Homo sapiens: one gene and its partners. The protein of the gene in region 3 purifies or fractionates together with the protein of the main gene of each other region. This does not show direct contact. Each region holds a gene or a part of one and is shown on either strand. Other genes may lie near its edges.

Evidence for each region.
Region 1: the proteins of SLC39A5 (region 3) and MIA3 purify together in Homo sapiens (affinity purification with mass spectrometry; 3 studies listed by BioGRID and IntAct, with this or other methods). This does not show direct contact.
Region 2: the proteins of SLC39A5 (region 3) and GOLPH3L purify together in Homo sapiens (affinity purification with mass spectrometry; 3 studies listed by BioGRID and IntAct, with this or other methods). This does not show direct contact.

The regions. Positions count from the first base shown.
Region 1 is NC_000001.11:222,616,426-222,620,172, forward strand, and holds the start of MIA3 (transport and Golgi organization protein 1 homolog isoform 1 precursor), read left to right. Parts: upstream 1-1,671; 5' UTR 1,672-1,685; coding exon 1,686-1,818; intron 1,819-3,747.
Region 2 is NC_000001.11:150,648,555-150,652,301, reverse strand, and holds part of GOLPH3L (Golgi phosphoprotein 3-like), read left to right. Parts: intron 1-3,074; coding exon of another isoform or gene 3,075-3,121; exon of another isoform or gene 3,122-3,170; intron 3,171-3,553; coding exon 3,554-3,747. UniProt on the Homo sapiens protein: Phosphatidylinositol-4-phosphate-binding protein that may antagonize the action of GOLPH3 which is required for the process of vesicle budding at the Golgi and anterograde transport to the plasma membrane.
Region 3 is NC_000012.12:56,232,907-56,236,653, reverse strand, and holds part of SLC39A5 (zinc transporter ZIP5 precursor), read right to left. Parts: intron 1,831-3,747; coding exon 1,668-1,830; intron 1,498-1,667; coding exon 1,328-1,497; intron 1,095-1,327; coding exon 954-1,094; intron 281-953; exon of another isoform or gene 259-280; coding exon 162-258; intron 73-161; coding exon 1-72. UniProt on the Homo sapiens protein: Uniporter that transports zinc(2+) into polarized cells of enterocytes, pancreatic acinar and endoderm cells across the basolateral membrane and participates, notably, in zinc excretion from the intestine by the uptake of zinc from the blood into the intestine.

The DNA of each region.
Region 1 (3,747 bases), on a different chromosome or scaffold from region 3:
TAAGATATTAAAACAAATAAATACACAGTAGAAAAGAAATGAAGAATGAACAGAACTACTACTTGGATAGAAAGTGCTTGTCCGTGACCTTACCAAATGTATATTTCTCAAGACAGCATTGGAATTACATTGGCCCAGTAGGAACTCTCACGGCTCCTACAGACAAAAATTTGTGAGCATCTGTTTACCGTTTTTTCCTTATTCGATATAATGGATTGCACAGACAAGCCACATTCTTTCTTCTTGCTTTTAAGTAATACGATTTGTTTGGGAAACCAGCTGCTGGGTTTGTTGTTCAAGGTTGATGAGTAACCTTAGAGATTGCAATGAGAAGCTGCTGGTCACAGACAGATGCCAAGTTCTTCAACCAGGGCTGGAGAGCATTGTAGCCACTCTTCTGGAGAGCATTGTAGCCACTCTTCTCTGGGCTGACCTGCTCATGCAGTCCCCCGCTTTTTTAACTGCACATATAAATCATCCAGTTATAGTATGATTTAAATAAGATTTTGCTTCCCTGCTCAGAAAGAAAGTACAAAAATTGCTTGTTGCTTGATGGAGGCTTTACAGAGCTGTGATTAAAAAGGAGCATACTACCTGGGTTTGAATCTTAGCTCCATCACTCACTAGGTGTTTGAATGCCTTAAGGTAGTCATCTCTGAAATGGGGATCATAATAGGACCTACTACTCTAAGGTGCGATTGTTGTGAAGATTAATCTTAATTCTGGCATGAAATAAGTATAAAATGGAAGCTCATCACACTGTTATTAAATTAATTTACTTTTTTCCTATGGATATAGATCTAGGAATCTCAAGATCTCAGCCCAAGGACCATTACCCATTTCTATCAACGACCAAGCAGGCCACGGGCTCTGATTTATATCCTCAGCCCCCTATTCCACTCACCTCCCCCTTTCTTAATCAAAGAGCACCACGGGATGGTGCCCCCAAGGAAGCCCTGGGAGGCTGAAAAGGAGGGAGCCTGAAACCAGAGACTAACAGTGGCAAATCGCGGGTGGGATTTGGCAGTTCAGAAAAGGAGGTACCATGCCAAGAGTGGGGGTAGCGGGGTGAAGTAGCGGGGTGAAGTGGGGGGCTGGTTCGGGACAGGCCACAAACCAGAAACTGCGAGAAGGCGCCAGAAGGGACCTGTTGAGATGGCGCAGGGTTGGGGGACCCAAGCGCGCGGGGAGGGGTGAACTAAGAATGGAGTCACGCGGAGGTGCTGCGAGGGACTGGGGCAAAGGCAGGTGATTGGGCGAGGGAGTCCTGGTTGCCACGGCAGCGACCAGAGGAGAAGGCTTCGAGGAGAGGAGGAGGCTGCTGTCAGTCCTCCTCCTGGAGGTCTCCCGCATCCCTCCTAGAGCCTCTGCTGACGTGTCAGTCGGAAACTGCTCAGACCTTCGCGGGCGCCGCCCCTCTGCGCTTGTCTTCCCACATGCCCCCGGCGCTCCGCCTGGTCCCTGCCCGCGTCCCTGCCCCCGTCCCTGCCCCCGTCCCTGCCCCCGTCCCCGCCCCGTCCCCGCCCCCGCCCCCGCCCCCGTCCCCGCCCCCGTCCCCGCCCCGTCCCCGCCCCAGCCCCCGCCCCAGCCCCCCCGTCCCCGCCCCGTCCCCGCCCCCGTCCCGCCCCTCTGCGCCCGCCCCGGCCTCCTCCTCCGCGTCACCGGCTCCCCGAGGTGACCACAACATGGCTGCGGCGCCTGGGCTGCTCGTCTGGCTGCTCGTGCTCCGGCTGCCCTGGCGGGTGCCGGGCCAGCTGGACCCCAGCACTGGCCGGCGGTTCTCGGAGCACAAACTCTGCGCGGACGACGAATGCAGCAGTGAGTGCGCTGGAGGGGCGGCTGGCCTCGGGGCGGCTGGCCTTGGGGTCTCCGCCGGCCCCGGGGGTCTCCGCGGCGGCGCCGCCTGGGCTGTGCGGGGACGGGAGTTCCGCAGCCCCTGGCCGGCCCGGGGGTCGCAGGCGGGATGGGCTGAACGCGGGGGTGGGCGCGCTCCGGGTCCCTGTGTCTGCCTTCTCCCGCTCTGCCTGCGCCCGGCCCCTCGGGCCTGACCATGGGGGCTGCACCTCCCACTTGTTGCCAGCGTTTTATTTTTCCTCTGCTGAGGCGGGGGGTTGCTTGCGGTGGTCCCCGGCTTCCCCAATAGTGGCTCACAGCGTCCCCTTCCCACCCCCCCAATCCGCCTGGGCTCGGAGGGTAGATGTGGTTGCGCGCCGCGCGTCTGGGCTCCCCACGCCGCAACCAAAGCTTTCCTGCCCGCGCTGCGGGGACCTCGGTGGGTGCATCACCCCGGCAGATGCGCTAAGGGCTCGGTGGGCGTTTTCCCAGTGGCAGGTTGATGGTGGGGTTTGTTTGGAAAGGCTCCCTGGCGCTGCTCCTTTGCCCTTCTGCTTTATTGGGATTTGGGCTTGTACCGCCTTTTGAACAGGAATTGGGAGTTTAGGTTTGGGACGAGTCTGGAGTCCAAGCACTCATTGTATTCCGAGGTCTCTGCCCCGACTTTGATCAATCCTGTCGTTTCTGTGCTTGGAAGCCGCCTTGCAGACTGCTAGGCAGGACTGCAGGAAGACCAAAATCTTTCGCTCTGCAGAGACCGAGGATCTGCACCGGCCACCTGGGACCGGCAGCCTCCTCTTCTGTGCGCAGGAAGCGGAATTGCTCTCCAGTCTGGGATTGGAGGTGGGCGGTGGAGAGGGCACAGATCTTCAGGCTCAGATGAAGAAGGTTATTACAGGAATGACAGTAAATACTCCAAGGGTCTCATAAGCCAAGCTTGGTTTAGCCTTAGCCGCTTGCGTGTTGAAACCTCTTCCCTCTATGTTCGCCGGACCAGGATCATTTTAGGGCCTCCCAGACCGTCTCAACCTTGTAACTTACTGATAGCCACTGCAGAAACGGTTTTTCATACACTGTTAAGCAATGCCTATAGAAACGTATTCATTTTAAGAAGGCCAAGAACTCTATGGTTTAGCTATTTATATTCAAATTGATGTTATCAAAACCGAATTTCATAATATGAACTGTTTGTATCTCTACAACACTAATCAAGAAAAGAGATCTCTAATGAGTGTGAAGCCATTCCTAGAGATAACCCTGTGGTTGATGTAAATAAACACTACAAAAGCGGTACAACTGCCATGATTTTTCCCTTTAGTTTTCTTGGGTCAAAGCCACGCTGTTACCCATTTGCCGTTGGCAATGGCAAGATAGTTGGTATTCTTTGCTTGCAAGCATTGCCCTGCCTGGGTTCCTCAAAACAGGTTACCTGGAGAATCATCACATCACTGATGCTTCTTCAGTACTGAGGCATGATGTTAGAAGAGCTCACGGTTGTAACATAACTTGAGAAATGGTACGTGTTCAGAGGAAACCAAATACAATAGGCATCAACAGGAGCAAGGTCTAGATGGGTCTGTGTTGTGTTGTAGAAAGTGTTTAGTAATGTGAGTATGTACGGTGCCCTTGTGTGGTTTTCAAATAGCTGTTCCACAGGGTGCATTTTGTTGGCATCTCAAATATTATTATAAATCCTCTATGATCTATTGTAAGGGGGAGCAAAAGAAACATTGCCATTTTCAATTCTGATCTTATTCCCAACCTTAAATTGTCCATCATCTTAAACCTGGCCTCACACTCAATTATATCTGAGCTACAAAGCTGACATGTTGGAAAGTAATCAGAGTTTAGCTTCAAAAAACAAGTAGCCCCTTCCAAATCTATATGCGTGTATAGCCATTTAAAGGCACGTTT
Region 2 (3,747 bases), on a different chromosome or scaffold from region 3:
TCAAGTGATTCTCCTGCCTCAGCCTCCTGAGTAGCTGGGACTACAAGTGCATGCCACCACACCTGCTTTGCTTTTATTTCTGAAAGATAGTTTGCCAGTTATAAGATTCTTGGCTAATAGTTTCTACCCTCACTTTGAATAAGTCTACTCATTCTTCTGGCCTGCATTTTTTCTAATGGGAAGTCAGTTATTAAGCTTACAAAGTTCCACTGTGATGTGATAAGTCATTTTTCTCTTCTGCTTTCATGATTTTCCACTTATTTTTGGTTTTCAACATTTTTACTATGATGTTGGATATGGGTCTCTTTGTGTTCATCCAACTTGGAGTTTGTTGAACTTCTCCAATGTGTGGTTGAGTGTTTTTCATCACGTTTGGCAAGATTTTAGCCATTACTTTCTTGAGTATTTTTTCTGCCTCTTTCTCTCCTTTCCTTCTGGTGCTTCCATTTTATGTATGTTCATCAAGTTGATGATACTTTATATTTCTCTGAGTCTGTTCATTTTTCTTCATTCTCTTTTCTCCTTGTTCTTCATATTACATAATTTCTTTGATCTCTAAGTTTGCTAATTCTTTATTTTGCCAGCTCAGATCTCTTGTTGGATCCCTTGAGTGATTTTTTCATTTTGTTTGTTGTACTTTTTTTTTTTTTTTTTTTTTTGAGTTTCGCTCTGTCGCTGAGGCTGGAGTGTAATGGTGTGATCTTGGCTCATTGCAACCTCCGCCTCCTGGGTTCAAGTGATTCTCCTGCCTCAGCCTCCTGAGTAGCTGGAACTACAGGCACACACCACCATACCCGGCTAATTTTGTATTTTTAGTAGAGACAGGGTTTCACCATATTGGCCAGGCTGGTCTCAAACTCCTGGCTTCAAGTAATCCGCCTGCCTCAGCCTCCCAAAGTGCTGGGATTACAGACGTGAGCCACCATGCCCAGTCTGTTGTACTTTTAAACTCTAGGATTTCTAAATGGTTTTTTTGTTTTTGTTTTTTTGAGATGGAGTCTTGCTTTGTTGCCCAGGCTGGAGTGCAGTGGCACTATCTCAGCTCATTGCAGCCTCCACCTCCCAGGTTCAAGCGATTCTCTGCCTCAGCCTCCTGAGCAGCTGGGATTACAGGTGCCCACCATACCTGGCTAATTTTTGTATTTTTAGTAGAGATGGCGTTTCGCCATGTTGGCCAGGCTTGTCTTGAACTCCTGGCCTCAAATGATCCACCCACCTCAGCCTCTCAAAATGCTGGGATTACAGGCGTGAGCCACCGCACCTGGTCTAAATGGATCTTTTTTATAATTTCTGTCTTTATTTATATTCTCTATATGATAAGTCATGGTTTCCCTTAGGTCTTTGAACATATTTATAAAAGCTGCTTTATAGTCTTTGTAAAGTCCAACATTTTAGCGTTCTCAAAGGCAGTTTCCATTGCCTGCTTTTTTTCTTCTGAATGGGTCAATGGGTCACAATTTATTCTTTGTATACTTCATACTTTTTTGTCAAAAACTGGACATTTTAGATAATTGTGCAACTCTGGATACTACACTGCAGCTGTCCCCAACTTTTCTGGCACCAGGACAGGTTTCGTGGAAGACAGTTTTTCCACTGGGGTGGGAGACGGGGGGATGGTTTCGGTATGATTCAAGTGCATTGCATTTATTAGAGTCTCACAAGGAACATGCAACCTAGATCCCTCCCATGTGCAGTTCACAATAGGGTTCACACTCCTGTGGGAACCTAATGCCACTGCTGATCTGATGGGAGGCAGAGCTCAACTTTACTCACCCATGGCTCACCTCCTGCTGTGCAGCCGGGTTCCTAACAGGCTGCAGACCAGTACCAGTCCATGGTCCAGGGGTTGGGGACACCTGCTATACTGGTTTCTCCTTCCCACTAGAGGTTGATTGTGTTGTTTGCTTGGTAATTTGTTTCCTTAGTGACTTGCCTGCAGCAGCTCTCTGAAGTCTGTTTCTCTTGTAGTGTGCAGCCTCTGATGTCACTGCTCATATTTTCTTGTTTTTATCTTTTGGCCTAACTCCCTGTGTGTTGCCAGTGGGTCAGTAGAAGCCACTTATTAGTCAAAGGTTGTGCTTAAGACCTTTTAGCCAATTAAATTTTTTTATCCTTTACTGTTGGATATGTGTGTGTGATTTTGACATAGCCATCACAAATCAGGGAGTTTACATTTTGCCCCACATTCAGTGAGGAACTAGCAGCTTGGAAGTTCCCTCTCTGATTTCTTCTCGGAGAGAGTACATCCTTGGACATACACCAGGGATGTATGTGATTTTTTTAATTTTATTTTTATTTTTTATTTTTCATTTCTTGAGATGAAGTCTCACTCTGTCACTCAGGCTGGAGTGCAGTGGTACAATCTCAGCTGACTGAAACCTCCGCCTCCTGGGTTTTCCTGCCTAAGCCTCCAAGTAGCTGGGACTACAGGCGTGTACCACCACACCCGGCTATTATTATTATTTTTAAGCTTAGCTTTCTAGGAGTTGCCTCTGAGTTAGGGTAGCTTATTGTTCAGCCAGTGTTGGTTCAGTGGTTGTGCTTTAGCCCTTGGTGCCAGTGAAGCATCCACCCTTTTTTGATAGATCTATGTGTGGTCTGGGGAATACTCTCAAGTCAAGCCCCACGTCCTGCTCTGATTGCTCCTGAGTGGGTGCAGCCTGGTGCAAGCACACAGTCTTCCCAACCCCCAGTGTTGGTCATGATTCCAGAAGGACTTTTCTTGGCTTTCTGTTTCTCTGGTTCTGCCTGTTAAACTTCTGGAGGCTTTGCCATTTGGGTTTGTCATACCAGTGCCATAGAGCTAGCAGCACCTTGTAATTGCTCTCCACCAAGATCTCTATGGTTTTCAACACCCTTAGGCATAGAATTCTCCACACTGTGTTCCAAATAAAGTCAGTCCTCTCAGGCAGAGCTTTGGAGCTCTTCATTCTTCAGGCCTTCCTTCCCTCCTGGGCAGAACTTCTGCACAAGGGCCCACTTCTCCTACAGTGATACCCACCTGCTGTATGAGTAGGTGCTGGGGGAAAGAGGTGTTAGCCCCTGGTCTTCTTGACTTGCCTTTTCTGTTGCAGAATCTCTAATCTACGAACAAGCTGGAATGGGAGCAATTGAAGTCTAAATATTGTCAGCCTACCAGGCCTGGGATAGAGCTTCTGCTCTACAAATAGGGTAGGGAACCTCAGTCCTCTTAGCTTCACCAGCAAATAGAACTTCCACAATATAGAGTAGAAATCATCTGGGAGAGACTGGTGTCCTAAATAGAATTTGAAAAATACATAAATAATTACAGTGTCACAGAGGTCACATAAGAACAGAAATAAAGTCTATAAGCTCTAGCAATATGGAAGTCCTTGGTGACATTTTTTGAAGCTGGTTTAATGTGAAATGTGGTTGGAGTCAAAGCCAGATTATAAAGGACTAAGGATTAAATGAATTGAGGAATGAAGATTATGCTTTTAAACATTTTAGCCATTCAAGTTTCCAAACAACTACATGTTTCATTTTGCTTTTCTCTTTCAGTTCATTATGTCCTATTTCTTTTTTCTCATAGGTGAGACCTGGAACCCCTTCAAATTACAGTACCAGCTGAGAAATGTACGAGAGCGCATCGCAAAGAACCTAGTAGAGAAAGGTATTCTAACCACTGAGAAGCAGAATTTCCTGCTATTTGACATGACTACTCATCCAGTGACCAATACAACAGAGAAACAGCGACTAGTGAAAAAACTTCAAGATAGTGTACTA
Region 3 (3,747 bases):
CTTGGTGCCCAGGAGGGGCCAGAGCTGGTGGGTGCTGGCTGTTCTTCTCCCTCTGGCCCTGAGCCCCTGGCTCTGCGGGAAGAAGCACAGGACAGTGTTGGTGGCTGCAAGTAAGGACTGTGAGCTTGGAACCTACTCTTCAAATTTTCTCCTCTAGTCACCTGGAGCTGCCTGTAGGGGCTGAAGGGCCATCCCACTGCCATTCTCCGGATCCAAGTTGCGTGTTTCGAGATTCCTTCGTTTTCGCCTGCAGCATCTCTGAAATAGGAGGGCATCCCTCCTGGTGGAGGAGGCAGCAGAGCCAGGGACTAAGGGGAAGCCAGGCCACAAGCTGGGAAGATGAACACCTGGTTCCACCTCTGGCACCTGGGATGTTCTTTGGCCTCTACCTTCTTCCCAAGTTGGCACCTCCCCTCTGTTTCTTGTTGACTTGAGCTCAGAATAGGATGCCATTTGGCCAGAAGTCCTGGGTCTGTGCTTAAGGAGCCCCTACCCACTCCCTGTTAGCCGATAGGTCCTGCACACCAGGCAAATGTCAGAGATCCAGGAGCACACACTGCTCCTCATCTCTTGGCTTTTTGGCCCAGTTTTGTTGTTGTTGTTGTTGTTTTTGAGATGGAGTCTCGCTCTGTCACCTGGGCTGGAGTGCAGTGGTGCCATCTTAGCTCGCTGCAACCTCCACCTCCCAAGTCAAGCGATTCTCCTGCCTCAGCCTCCTGAGTAGCTGGGATTACAGACACGCACCACCACGCCCAGCTAATTTTTGTATTTTTAGTAGAGACAGGGTTTCACCATGTTGGTCAGGCTGGACTCGAACTCCTAACCTTGTGATCTGCCCGCCTTGGGCTCCCAAAGTGCTGGGATTACAGGCGTGAGCCACCGCGCCCGGCCTGGCCCAGTTCTTGACTGGGACTCTGGTCTCAGCAGAAGGAGGAGAAAAGGGTATCACTCACTGGCCTGAGCCCTCGGTGCCGCAAAAGCCCCAGCATGTTCTCCAGCACAAAGAGCAGGAAGAGGCCTCCGAGCACTGACAGCCCCGGGCCCAGGTCCTTCTCTGGTAGTCCGCCAGGTCCTGCGTGCCGCCCTTCTTGTGCCTGACAGAGAGAAGGTCAGGGCAGACTCTGGAAGCCCCTATACCCAACAACATCCCCTTGCATGGATTGTGGCAAGCCTTCGCTCATATGCTCTACTAGAAGGCAGCTGTGGGCTGAAGCCAGGATCTGGGAGTAGGATATGGGAGCTGATGGAAAGGCGGAGGGGATGTCCTATGGCTGGGGACACCTTAGATCCATGGAGGCCAGGGGTACAAGGAAGGGGCTTCACATACATGCGGTAGCAGATGTAGCAGTGCATCCCCACAAAGAGTGCCCACCGCCAGGGCCCCCAGGAAGCCCAGCAAGGGCCGTAGTAGACGAGGTCCCAGGAGCCGCAGCAGCAGCAGGGATAGGGGAGAAGGGAGGCTGAGCAACAGGACTGCCAGGGCACTCTGAAGCAGGGCTGGGGAGAATCAGGGGCTGAAGTTAGGTCAGGGCAAGAGGAGGGTCCCACACGTAAGGTGGAGCAGAGAGAACACTACAAGGAGAGGCAGGACCCCAGTGAGCCTCCTTTTTGGCATGGGCCCCACTTCCAGGATTCAGGGTGTCCCCCACCCACTCCTACTTGCTGACCAGATAGTAGATCCCCTGGGGGTGCAGGGGCCGGAGCGCCGATGCAGACGCGGCTGTCGATCTGATAAAGCAGGGCTGGGCACAGCAGAGCAAACTGACGAGGGGTCAGAGGAGCAGCGGGGCTCAAGCCAAAATTGACCAGCAGCTGGGAGCCGTTCAGACACTGGAGAATTGAGGGTCATACATTGGAGAATCACCAGGAACTATGACTCAGATCTTTAACACCTGGCCAGGTGTAGTGGCTCACACCTATAATCCCAGCCCTTGAGAGGCCCAGGCGGGTGTATCATCTGAGGTCAGGAGTTTGAGACCAACCTGGCCAACATAGTGAAACCCTGTCTCTACTAAAAATACAAAAATTAGCTGGGGATGAGCCGGGTGCGGTGGCTCACGCCTGTAATCCCAGCACTTTGGGAGGCTGAGGTGGGTAGATTGCCTGAGCTCAGGAGTTCGAGACCAGCCTGGGCAACATGGTGAAACCCTGTCTCTACTAAAATACAAAAAATTAGCTGGGCATGGTGGCGTGCACCTGTGATCCCAGCTACTCAGGAGGCTGAGACAGGAGAATCGCTTGAACCCAGGAGGCAGAGGTTGCAGTGAGCCGAGATTGCACCAGTGCACTCCAGCCTGGGCGACAGAGTGAGACTCCATCTCAAAAAAAAAAAAAAAAAATTAGCTGGGGATAGTAGTGAACACCTATAATCCCAGCTACTCGGGAGGCTGAGGCAGGAGAATTGCTTTAACCCAGGAGGTGGAGGTTGCAGTGAGCCAAGATCACGCCATTGCACTCCAGCCTGGGTGACAGAGTCAGACTCTACCTCAAAAAAATATATATATATATATTTAACACCTGTCCTTCCATTGCATAGACTCCTGGGTCTCTCCCAGGGTCCCCTTTGCTCCTACTGGCAGGTACCTTGGGGACTAGGGCCAAGGGTACTTATAATCAATGTGTATTATTAGTGAATATTCAGTCCAATGCAGGTATTCAATTTGATGCAAACTGGGTGCTAGTGAGCATTGTCATCATCTTCCCTGCAAACTCTGATCATTTCAATCATTTTGTTGATTTGATAAATGAAGCTGGTTGGAAAACTAGAGCTCTCCATGCCAGAATCTTAAAAGGGAAAAGACCCTGAAATGCCATCTAATCTCCCTCTCAACAGCCCTGTCGATGTTCATCCAGCCTCAGCTTGAATGCTTCCTGCAATGGGCACTCACTGGACCTCCATCAGGGTTAGGCAGCTTTGTCTGCCCTCTGGTGTAAGTGGAATATATTCTCTGTCTTTCTGGATGAAGACAGCCATCCATTCCCTGCAGGTCTCCTCTCCAGGTGACCATCCAGATCCTACCCTGGGCTGCTTCTCTAGATTCTCTGCTTTGCCATCTATTCCCCTAAACTGAGTCTTGGAGCTCTGGATATGGGCTCACCTGCTCTGATCCCAGAGGGAACATAGTTCACTATTGAAATAACATCCCCTAAGACCACAGTGAGATATTTTTTTTTTATTTTTTTATTTTTTTTATTTTCATTTTTGAGACAGAGTCTCGCTGTGTTACCCAGGCTGGAGTGCAGTGGTGCAATCTCGGCTGACTGCAATCTCCGCCTCCTGGGTTCAAGTGATTTTCCTGCCTCAGCCTTCCGAGTAACTGGGATTATAGGCATGTGCCACCACGCCCAGCTATTTTTTTTTTTTTTTTTTTTTTTTTTTTTTTTTTTTTGAGACAGAGTCTCCCTCTTGTTGCCCAGGCTGGAGTGCAAATGGTGCCATCTTGGCTCACTGCAACCTCTGCCTCCCAAGTTCAAGCAATTTTCTCACCTCAGCCTCCTGAGTAGCTAGGATTACACACACCTGTTACCACACCCGGCTAATTTTTGTATTTTTTAGTAGAGATGGGGTTTCACCATGTTGGCCAGGCTGGTCTCGAACTCCTGACCTCAGGTGATCCACCCACCTCGGCCTCCCAAAGTGTTGGGATTACAGGCGTGAGCCACCACGCTTGGTCCACGTTGGGATTTAAAAACAAAACAAAACAAAAAACTACTGATTATTTAAACATTTCAGGCCATCTAATCCCA